3 linked regions of the Homo sapiens genome follow. The protein of the gene in region 1 purifies or fractionates together with the protein of each later gene. This does not show direct contact. Each region holds a gene or a part of one and is shown on either strand. Other genes may lie near its edges.

Region 1 (3,653 bases):
CAACCTACCTTTCCTCCCATTCCCAGCCCCTGGCAACCACCATTCTACACTCTGTCTCTATGAATTTGACTATTCTAGATATCTCATAGAAGTGGAATCACACAGTATTTGTTTTGTGAGTAACTTATTTCACTTAGCATAATGTCCTCAAAGTTGGTTCATGTTGTAACGTGTGACAGGATTTCCTTTAAGGCTGAAAAGAACATTCCATTGTATCTATATACCACAGTTTGTTTATCTGTTCACCCATTAATGGACATTTGGATTGCTTCTACCTCTTGGTAGAATGTAAAATTGTACCATGTAAAATTGTGAATAGTGCTCCTGTAAACATGGATATGCAGATATTTCTTTGAGATCCTGCTTTCAGTTGTTTTGGATATAGGCACAGGAGTGGGATTGCTGGATCATATGGTAATTATAATTTTAATTTTAGTATCGTAATTCTAATTTCTTAGGTAGAACTACCATACTGTTTTCCACAGCAGTTGTACCATTTTCCAGTCCTACCTACAGTATACAAGGGTTCCAGTTCTCCATCCCTTAGTCAGCAGTTGCTATTTACTGTTTTTGTCATAGTGGTCATCCTGATGGGTGTGATACGATACCTCATTTTGTTTTGATTTGCATTTCTCTGATGATTAGTGATATTGAGCATCTTTTTATGTGCTTGTTGGCCACTTGTAAATCATCTTTGGGGAAATATCTACTCACATCCTTTGACCATTTTTTAATTAGGTTATTTTGATTTTTGTTGAGTTGTGAGAGTTCTTTATATGTTCTGGAGACATGAGTTTTAATGTAACAGTATGACAGATTTATTAATGGTTTCAGATTCTGCATTGTAACTAACCTTTAAGGAGCTAACTGTTGAATTCTGTGGTTTCATATAAGTATATCTAGAATTATCTGAAAGACGATTAGAATATTCTTTTCAGTATCATATCTTTGAGAGGCTGGATTTTATACCTGAACTGAAAGAGCAGATCATAACAGATTGAGTGCTAAAGCAGATATGAGAATCTACTTGTTCTTTTTAAAACCTAGACATTAGGAGATTTGCAAAAATGTAAAATTAAGCCACTCTTAATGTATTTTGATAGGAAATAGTTATTTTTAATTTAAAATGCATTGATATATAGGTATTTTTAAATAAATGTTTCTAGATTTGTTTTTCATTTTCTGAAGTAGTAAATATTGGTAGGCATTATCTATGTAAACAGATGCTTTTTTAGGTCTGTAGTAATTTCCATTTATGTTTTAATTTTTTTTTTAGAGACAGGATCTCGCTTTGTCACCCAGGCTGGAGTATAGTGGTGTGATCAGGGCTCACTGCTGTCTCAACACGTTGAGCTCAAACAGTCCTCCTGCCTCAGTCTCCTGAGTTGCTGGGACTACAGGCACTCACCACAGTACCCTGCTAATTTTTAACTTTTTGTAGAGATGAGATCTCATTATGTTGCCCAGGCTGGTCTCAAACTCCTGGCCTCAAGCAATCCTCCTGCCTGGGGCTCAAAGTGCTAGGATTATAGATGTGAGTCGCTGTGCCCAGCCAGTAATTTTTAAGAATGCACATGGAGTTCTGAGATCTAAGTCTGAGATCTACTGGCTTTAAGAAACTAGTGGGGTTTTTTTACTGTCATACACGGGGGGAATTCTGTGTAATTTTTTATTATTACTGCGTACTTAAAACCAGCCATACATGTTTAGGGTTTGCTGATAAAATTAAATAGCAATACATGTATCAAGAAAATCTCACTTTTTTGTTTCTTTTGATGTAACAGAAATAGAAGTTTGTTGAATGAGGAAAATAGGAGAGCTAATTGTTTGTTGTTGTTGTTTTTGTTGTTGTTAAGACAGGGCCTCACTCCCGTAGCCCAGGCTGGAGTGCAGTGGCGCCATCTTGTCTCACTGCAGCCTCGACCTCTGGGTTTAGGTGATTCACCACCTGAGCCTTCTCAGTAGCTGGGACTACAGGCCTGCACTGCCACACCTGGCTAATTTTTTGTATTTTTAGTAGAGACGGGGTTTTGTCATGTTGCCCAGGCTGGCCTCAAACTTCTGGGCTCAAGTGATTCGCCCGCCTTGGACTCCCAAAGTGCTAGGATTACAGGCGTGAGCCACCGTGCTTGTCTCTAATTGTTTGTTTGTTTGTTTGTTTGTTTTTTAAAGATAATTGTTTAAATTTGGTATAAAGACAGTTATCTAAAATTGTGGACTGGAGAAGTCTTAAAACCAATGGGATCCTTCATAGTTTTTCCAGTATTAAAAAGATGAAGGTGATAATTTTCACCACTTTTGAAAAATATTAAGGGCTAGGACCGTTAATCTATCATTTCAGAGACCTGAGCTCCCAACCACATGGGGTATCTGATTAAATCATACAAATACTGACCTGCTATGATCTAGGTATAAAACAAGAAAGGGAAGGTCTCTGCTTTCATGGGGATGTACAAGCAACTAACAAGTACACAAATAACATAAAGTGGGATAACTTTAGATCATGGTGAATGTTATTAAGAGGTAAAATTGGGTAATGTGACTGGGATTTGTGGGGCTACCTTGTTGGTCAGGAGAACTCCAAAAGGAACCGGCCTTCTGAAGGTATGGGGAAGAGCTTATCAGGCAGAGGAGAGTGTGTCCTAATGGGAGAGGAAGAAGAGCAGAGTAGAGAACGCATGAACAACAAGGAGGAAGATGGGAAACCTGAGGGCAGAGGCGTGAAGGCTTTTAGGGCTTGGGGGCTATGGTGAGCAGTTTGGTTGTTTTTCAAATTATAAAGGGAAGGCATGGGAACATTTTAGATCACACAATGTGGTATCAGTGACACAACGATTACTTTGGTTGCAGTGAAGAATAAGATTGTAGGAGCAAGAGAGTAAAAACCTATGCCTTAATAAAAAAATGGAAATAAGACTGAAGGAAAACAAACACCAATTTCTTTAAAAAAAAAAAACAAAAAAAAAACCCTCTGTGCCTTGAATAGCTTTTCTAAGTTTTAAATAAACGTTCTGTGGTTATGTAAGATGCTAATACAGGAGAAGCAAAGTGAACCGTATACAGGAACTCTACTATTTTTCCAGTTCTTCTGTAAGTCTGAAATTATCTCAAAATTTAACTGTTAAGTAAACAATAACAAACAGTATTTTATACCTTGAATGAACAATTAAAACTTTTGATTTGGGTACAGAACCAAGAGCAGATGAGTCCAGAAAAATAAAAAATCATATTTTTTTCAATTAACTGACTTGGGACAAAATACTTCTATTCTGTTGAATCCATCTCTGAGCTGGGGCCCAGTAGTTTGTCTTTGGTTTTTGTACTTTTTAAAGCTTTCCCAGATTCTGATGCTTGCTAATACGTTGCATGGACAAAATTTCAGGTGTAGCCTTCTTTAGTAAATTCAGTCTTCATAGTCGGTAATCAGCGAAACACTTTGTCAACTTTTTTTTTTTTTTTTTAATCCCCAGCGACATCTCGAATCAGCGATGCACACTTGGCAGACACAATGATTGGCAAAGCAGTGGAACATATGTTTGAGACAGAGGATGGTTCTAAAGATGAGTGGAGGGGAATGGTCTTAGCACGTGCACCTGTCATGAACACATGGTTTTACATTACCTATGAGAAAGACCCTGTCTTGTACATGTACC
Region 2 (3,653 bases), on another chromosome or scaffold:
AGGGTGGAAAAAAATTCCAAAAACTGTTTATTATAGTAACATTGTCGAAGAGATCAGAAACATGCACTGTTCTATACCCCTTGTCTATATATACTTCATAGGTTTTGTTCAACTGCTATTATACACAGCACTTAGTTGTTTGCTTAGTTTTAAGGTTTTTGTTTGTCTGTTTGTTTTTTTGGGAGACAGAGTTTCACTCTGCCTCCCAGGCTGGAGTGCAGTGGTACAATCTTAGCTCACTGCAACCTCTGCCTCCATGGTTCAAGTGATTATCCTGTCTCAGCCTCCCGAGTAGCTGGGATTACAGGCGTGTGCCACCAGGCTCAGCTAATTTTTTGTATTTTTAGTAGAGATGGGGTTTCGTTATGTTAGGCAGGCTGGTCTTGTACTCCCGACCTCAATCAATCCAACCACCTTGGCCTCCCGAAGTGCTGGGATTACAGGTGTGAGCCACGGCACCCAGGCTGCTTAGTATTAAACTTGAATTACACTACATCAATCTCTACTTAGACCCTTAACTCCAGATAGAAACTGTCTTTACTCATTTTGGACTTCCTTCTCTAACAGTGAGAATGACTAAGGTATGTATTTAGTAAGTACTAATTTACCTGAACTTCATCTCCTGCTGTCTTTCGGAATCCCATAAGGGGATTCCTTCAATCAAGGAATCAACGTAATTCCAGTGTGATGAAATTTAGTAAGAATCTTTACAAGCAAGAAAATTTCAGCATCTGACGTTTTTAAACTAATCTATAAGCTATCTTTACAAGAGGTGTTCCCAAGCAACAAAAAGGATGGGCTCAATTTTAATCTCATTTTTCCTAGTGTATACAATGTATAACAAGGAGCTAATAAGCCATAAGGATGAGAAGGCAAAGAAAGGATAGTGGAAAGACATTTACGTTCAGGTGGATTTTAAGAATCACACAATCTCCTAGCAGGAAAACTTTCAATGGTTTACTGAAAGCTTGCTGAGAAGGTCAGGTGGTATATGATGTGCTAGGCATTCATACATGAAAGATACAGTCCCTGTTCTCAAGGAGTAGACAGTGCAGTCTGAGGCAGCTGAAAACAACATGATGCGTTCTAACAGACGTACTATACAGAGTGCATTCACTGGTGGTCCATGAGTGGGAGCAAAGGCATAGAAGTGTTCTGAGAGATGACATGTTAAATTTTGAAACCTCAAGAGGCATTAGATCAAAGAGGCATTAAAGAAGGGCATTTCAGATGGAAGGATCTGTTAAGTGTTACCACAGAGAACAAGAAATAGTTCAGTGCAGCTAGAGTTCAGTAGCACATTTGGGAAATTTGCAGGACACATGTTCAGAAAGACAGGTAGGGCCAAGATGAACAGCTTAGAAGGCTATGCTAACGACGTACCATACAAAACTGTATTCTGCCAGCTACAAAGAATCGTTAATTTTACACAGAAGGGAAATTTTCAGATCAGTGTTTTTGAAAGACAGAATGAGAGATACTCATGGTAGAGGCAAGGAAAGTAGAAGGCTGTTGCAGCAACGCAGGTATAAAGCGACAAAATTCTGAACTAAGAAAGCACCTGTGGGAAAGGAGAAACGGGGGATGGATCTGAGTTATTTATTTAGATATCTGAGGAAAGATCAATTAGGATTGTGTGACCAGTAATTGGTGTGGAAGCTAAGGAAGAAGAGTCTAGAATAACTTCAGAAGTTTCTGGCTTTAAAGACTGGGTGAACTGTGGAGCCACTAATGGAGATGGAAACCTAAAAGAGCCAGGTTTGCAAAATTAGGCAAAAGGTGAGTTCAGTATCTATGAGAGAGCTGAGTAGAGATGCCAAGCAGGGGCAGTAACTGCAGAGAGGGGTCCGGAGTGAGCTATAGATTTGATGTAAGCCATTTGCATTTGAGGTTACTGATGTAAATAAGCTAGCAGAGAGACCATGCAGAGTGAGAAAAGAAGTAAGACAATTCTTTCTTTTCTCCCCAAGACGGAGTCTTGCTCTGTCGCCCAGAGCTGGAGGGCAATGGCATGATCTTGGCTCACTGCAACCTCCGCCTCCTGAGTTCAAGCAATTCTCCTGCCTCAGCCTCCCGAGTAGCTGGGATTACAAGCACGCACCACCGTGCCCAGCTAATTTTTGTATTTTTAGTAGAGACAGGTTTCACCATGTTGGCCAGGCTGGTCTCAAACTCCTGACCTCGTGATCCACTGCGCCCAGCTGGTAAGACAATTCTTTTTTTATTTTTATTTTTTGAGACGGAGTCTCACTCTGTCGCCCAGGCTGGAGTGCAGTGGCACAATCTCGGCTCACTGCAAGCTCTGCCTCCCGGGTTCACACCATTCTCCTGCCTCAGCCTCCCCAGTAGCTGGGACTACAGGCACCTGCCACCAGGCCCGGCTAATTTTTTGTATTTTTAGTAGAGACGGGGTTTCACCATGTTAGCCAGGATGGTCTCGATCTCCTGGCCTCGTGATCCACCTGCCTCGGCCTCCCAAAGTGCTAGGATTACAGGCGTGAGCCACCACATCCGGCCCAGTAAGACAATTCTTAACATATATCACTATTTAGGAATGGGCAGAAAAAGAGAAGCTTACATGGAAACTTCAGATGGAACAGGGATTGGGGAAGGGAAAGAAAGAAGAGGGGGAAAGAAGGAAGGGGAGACAAGGAGGAACACGGGTGAGGAGAAAGAAGCTCTATAGGCAGAAAACTAAAGAGAAGTTAGGTAAGTTAAGAACTAAAATGTGCCAGGCACGGTGGCTCACGCCTGTAATCCCAGCACTTTGGGAGGCCAAGGCAGGCGGATCACAAGGTCAGGAGATCAAGACCATCCTGGCTAACACGGTGAAACCCCATCTCTACTAAAAATACAAAAAATTAGCCGGACGTGGTGGCGGGCACCTGTAGTTCCGGCTACTCAGGAGGCTGAGGCAGGAGAAAGGCATGAACCTGGGAGGTAGAGCTTGCGGTGAGCCAAGATCCGGCTACTACACTCCAGCCTGGGCGAGAGTGCGAGACTCTGTCTCAAAAAAACAAAACAAAAAGAACTAAAATTCTTCTGTTGTATAGGCAACCAGGAGTCATCAGTGAAAGCAGTTTCAATGGAGCAGTAGGGACAGGGTTGAGGAGTACCTGGCAAGTAAGTAGTAGAAGATGAAGACTAGGTCAAGAGGAGTCAAGAGTACTTTGTAGGCTGTTTATCAATGATAGGAAGGAGAAAGTGAAGCATTACCTACAGAAATTTTATTTTTTAAAGAAACATAGGCATGTTTATATGCTAAAGGGGAAAAACCAGTAAAGTCTGAAAAACTGAAGATGCAAAATGACAGAAAAAAGTCATAGGATTTCCAGAGAAGACCAGACACAATCAAAACTTTTAACAACAGGAGTAACTCACTCTTCCCCCAAAGCTAGAGGGAAGGAGTGAAAAGAACAAACATGACTATGAATCAGCCCTATTAAATAATCAAAAGGTTCATATTACAAAAGCAGCAAATCAACTCCTGCCACAAACAGGCAGGCAGTGAGACCTTGGGCAGGTGAGGGTTGCTTACTGGCTCTCAAGACTTAGCAAGTTGGAAAAGCGATCCTTTCCCTAGCTCATCTAGAACACACAGCTCATTGTCCCTCAATTACTGACTCTAGGAAGGCCAAGGAACTGTGCTTTCT
Region 3 (3,653 bases), on another chromosome or scaffold:
TACATTGTGAGAAGTTGATTTTAATAAAAAGGTTGGAACGTCATCTCCAAAATAAATAAATACCCAAGCATGGTGGGGCGTGCCTGTAGTCCCAGCTACACAGGAGGCCCAGGCAGGAGGATCACTCTAGCCCAGGAGGTCAAGGCTGTGTGAGCCATGATCCTGGCACTGCACTCCAGTCTGGGCAACAGGGCAAGACCATATCTCAAAAAAATATATATGGTGGCAGAGGACAGTGGCTCATACTTGTAATCCCAGCACTTTGGGGACGCCGAGGCGGGTGGATGACCCAAGGTAAGGAGTTTGAGACCAGCCTGGCTAACATGGCGAAACCCCATCTCTAATAAAAATACAAAAATTAGCCAGGTGCAGTGGTGCGCACCAGTAGGCCCCAGCTACTAGGGAGGCTGAGGCAGGAGAACTGCTTGAACCCCAGAGACGGAGGTTGCAGTGAGCCGAAATTGCACCACTGCTCCTCCAGCCTCAGCAAGAGACTCCGTCTCAGAAAATAAATAAAATACAGAATAGCTAGCATATCCATTTACCTTTCGGGCGCATGTAATTAATAATTCAGAATGTTATGTACACTATGATTACAATGTGTATGGAGGAGTATATGTCAGAGTCCTTGCTGTGTCAGGACTCCGTCTACTGGCAAAGTACCCCCTGTGCTTGAGTTAAACCACATCCAGGAGCTCAGTTCCATCTCAAGTTCAAGATAGTCTTCAGTCAATATTGGGAAATTTATGGCCAGGCAGTGGCTCACTCCTGTAATCCTAGCACCTCGGGAGGCTGAGGCTGGCAGACTGCCTGGGCTCAGGAGTTCCAGACCAGCCAGGGCAACATGGTGAAACCCAGCGTCTACCAAAATACAAAAACTTGGCTAGGCGTGGCAGCGCGTGTCTGTAATCCCAGCTACTAGGGAGGCTGAGGCAGGAGAATCCCTTGGACCCAGGAGGTGGAAGTTGCAGTGATCCACCAGGCGGAGTTGCAGTGAGCCGAGATCGTGCACTGCACTCCAGCCTGGGGGAGAGAGACCCCGTCTCAAAAAATAAATGAATAAATAAATAATAGTCCGGGCGTGGTGGCTCACACCTGTAATCCCAGCACTTTGGGAGGCCGAGGTAGGTAGATCACCTGAGGTCAAGAGTTCAAGACCAGGCCGGGCGCAGTGGCTCACGCCTGTAATCCCAGCACTTTGGGAGGCCGAGGCGGGTGGATCATGAGGTCAGGAGATCGAGACCATCCTGGCTAACAAGGTGAAACCCCGTCTCTACTAAAAATACAAAAAATTAGCCGGGCGCGGTGGCGGGCGCCTGTAGTCCCAGCTACTGGGGAGGCTGAGGCAGGAGAATGGCGTGAACCCGGGAAGCGGAGCTTGCAGTGAGCCGAGATTGCGCCACTGCAGTCCGCAGTCCGGCCTGGGCGACAGAGCGAGACTCCGTCTCAAAAAAAAAAAAAAAAAAAAAAAAAAAAAAAAAAAAAAAAAAAAAAAAAAAAAAAAAAAAAAAAAAAAAAAAGAGTTCAAGACCAGCCTGGCTAACATGGTGAAACGCTGTCTCTACTAAAAATACAAAAATCAGCTGGGTGTGGTGGTGGGTGCCTATAATCCCAGCTACTCGGGAGGCTAAGGCAGGAGAATCACTTGAACCTGGGAGGTGGAGGTTGCACTCCAGCCTGGGCAACAGAACGAGATTCCATCTAAAAAAAATAATAATTAAAATTTAAAAAATAATAATCAGGAAATCCAAAAGCTTAAGGCTTCGAGCCCCAAATTCTGGCAGTTCAAATTGATGTATCTTATTTATACATCAGACATAAACTCACATTTTTATTTTTCTACCCCATTTTTCTGTTGATCACTACTGACATTAAAACTAGATACTGGGCCGGGTGCACAGGCTCATGCCTGTGACCCCAGCACTTTAGAAGGCTGAGGCGGGCGGATCACAAGATCGGGAGTTTGAGACCAGCCTGGCCAACATGATGAAACCCTGCCTCTACTAAAAATACAAAAATTAGGATAGGCATAGTGGCTCACACCTGTAATCCCAGCACTTTGGGAGGCTAAAGCAGGCTGATCACTAAGTCAGGAGTTCGAGACTAGCCTGACAAACATGGTGAAATCTAGTCTCTACTAAAAATACAAAAATTAGCCAGGCGTGGTGGTGCGCACCTGTAATCTCAGCTACTCAGGAGGCTGAGGCAGGAGAATTGCTTGAACCCGGGAGGCAGAGGTTGCAGTGAGCTGAGATCGCGCCACTGCACTCCAGCCTGGGCGACAGAGCAAGACTCTATCTCAAAAACGAAAAAAAAAAAAAAAAAATCAGGCGGGCGTGGTGGCGCATGCCTGTAGTCCCAGCTACTTGGAGGCTGAAGCAGGAGAACTGCTTGAACTTGGAAGGCAGAGGTTACAGTGAGGTGAGATCACACCACTGAACTCCAGCCTGGTTGACAGTTATGCCCCGTCACAAAAAAATACACTAGATACTAACTTTAATTACAACAAATAAGCAACCTATTTTAGCTGTAAACCAAATGCTGTGCTTTGAAAATGCAATTGCAGTAACAAATGAATAATCCTCTTATGTAATTATCATTTCTTCCCTTACAGTCACACAACTCAGATAAACTTAAATTGGATTTCTAAAAGTAAATTTCCAGATTCTAAAAATGGTAGAAAGTTATGAAATCAAATTAGGTAATTAACTGAAAATTAAATTGACTCAATAGAGGTTTGTCCAGGATTGGATACAAGCATCCTCACTAGTGTATCAAGAGGTTCAAGTCTGGGTCTGCCAACATAACAAATTCCTGAACTACAAGAATAATTTAAAGCCTGTGTATGTGAATGACCATATACTACATGCCATATTTTGGTATCTTTAAGTCCATTTCTTAGATTAAGTAGGTTATATTCATAATCTACCCTATCTTGGGACAACAAAGCCTAATTTTACACACTAAGCTAACAACCTTCCAAAGAGTACTTCTAGATCTTATCCATCAACGAGCTGGCTCTATTTGTCAGGTGCCTCCAGGCATTATCCACAATGTGCAAATACCAAGTGCAAAGGCCCTAGGACAGAAGCATTCCTATAGTTTGAGGAATGAGGACACCAAAAACTTCCATAACTTCTAAAGCACTGTAAGGATTTAATATTTTTATCTTCAGCTAAATGAGACCACTGGAGAGTTCAGAGCTTGATCTCAATAAGGTTTGTTTACCTTCCCTTCATATCTGGACCTAGGGCCTCTTCTGTACCCACCCGTAGACCCAAGTCTTTTGTCTTTTTTTTTTTTTTGAGACAGTTTCACTCTTATTGCCCAGGCTGGAAGGCAATGGCGTGATCTCGGCTCACCGCAACCTCCACCTCCTGGGTTCAAGGGATTCTCCTGCCTCAACCTCCCGAGTAGCTGGGATTACAGGCATGCGCCACCATGCCCGACTAATTTTGTATTTTTAGTAGAGATGGGGTGTTGGGAAAAAGGCTTATCGAGTGCCTGTATAAGCTGGCCATAAAAATATGGCACAGTAAGTTGTGAAAAGCCACAAGAGGCCTCTGAGGAGGAAAGCCTCCTAATTGCCATCATGTTCCCATGCTCAGAGCGAGACCTGCTCTCTTATCTGTAAACAGTGTTCAAGAAGAAAG

What was found.
Region 2: the proteins of SPIN1 (region 1) and DDX42 purify together in Homo sapiens (affinity purification with mass spectrometry, with the first as the bait; one large-scale study listed by BioGRID). This does not show direct contact.
Region 3: the proteins of SPIN1 (region 1) and SLBP purify together in Homo sapiens (affinity purification with mass spectrometry; one large-scale study listed by BioGRID and IntAct). This does not show direct contact.

The regions. Positions count from the first base shown.
Region 1 is NC_000009.12:88,464,902-88,468,554, forward strand, and holds part of SPIN1 (spindlin-1), read left to right. Parts: intron 1-3,470; coding exon 3,471-3,653. UniProt on the Homo sapiens protein: Chromatin reader that specifically recognizes and binds histone H3 both trimethylated at 'Lys-4' and 'Lys-9' (H3K4me3K9me3) and is involved in piRNA-mediated retrotransposon silencing during spermatogenesis.
Region 2 is NC_000017.11:63,780,593-63,784,245, reverse strand, and holds part of DDX42 (ATP-dependent RNA helicase DDX42), read right to left. Parts: intron 1-3,653. UniProt on the Homo sapiens protein: ATP-dependent RNA helicase that binds to partially double-stranded RNAs (dsRNAs) in order to unwind RNA secondary structures. Unwinding is promoted in the presence of single-strand binding proteins.
Region 3 is NC_000004.12:1,705,778-1,709,430, forward strand, and holds part of SLBP (histone RNA hairpin-binding protein), read right to left. Parts: intron 1-3,653. UniProt on the Homo sapiens protein: RNA-binding protein involved in the histone pre-mRNA processing.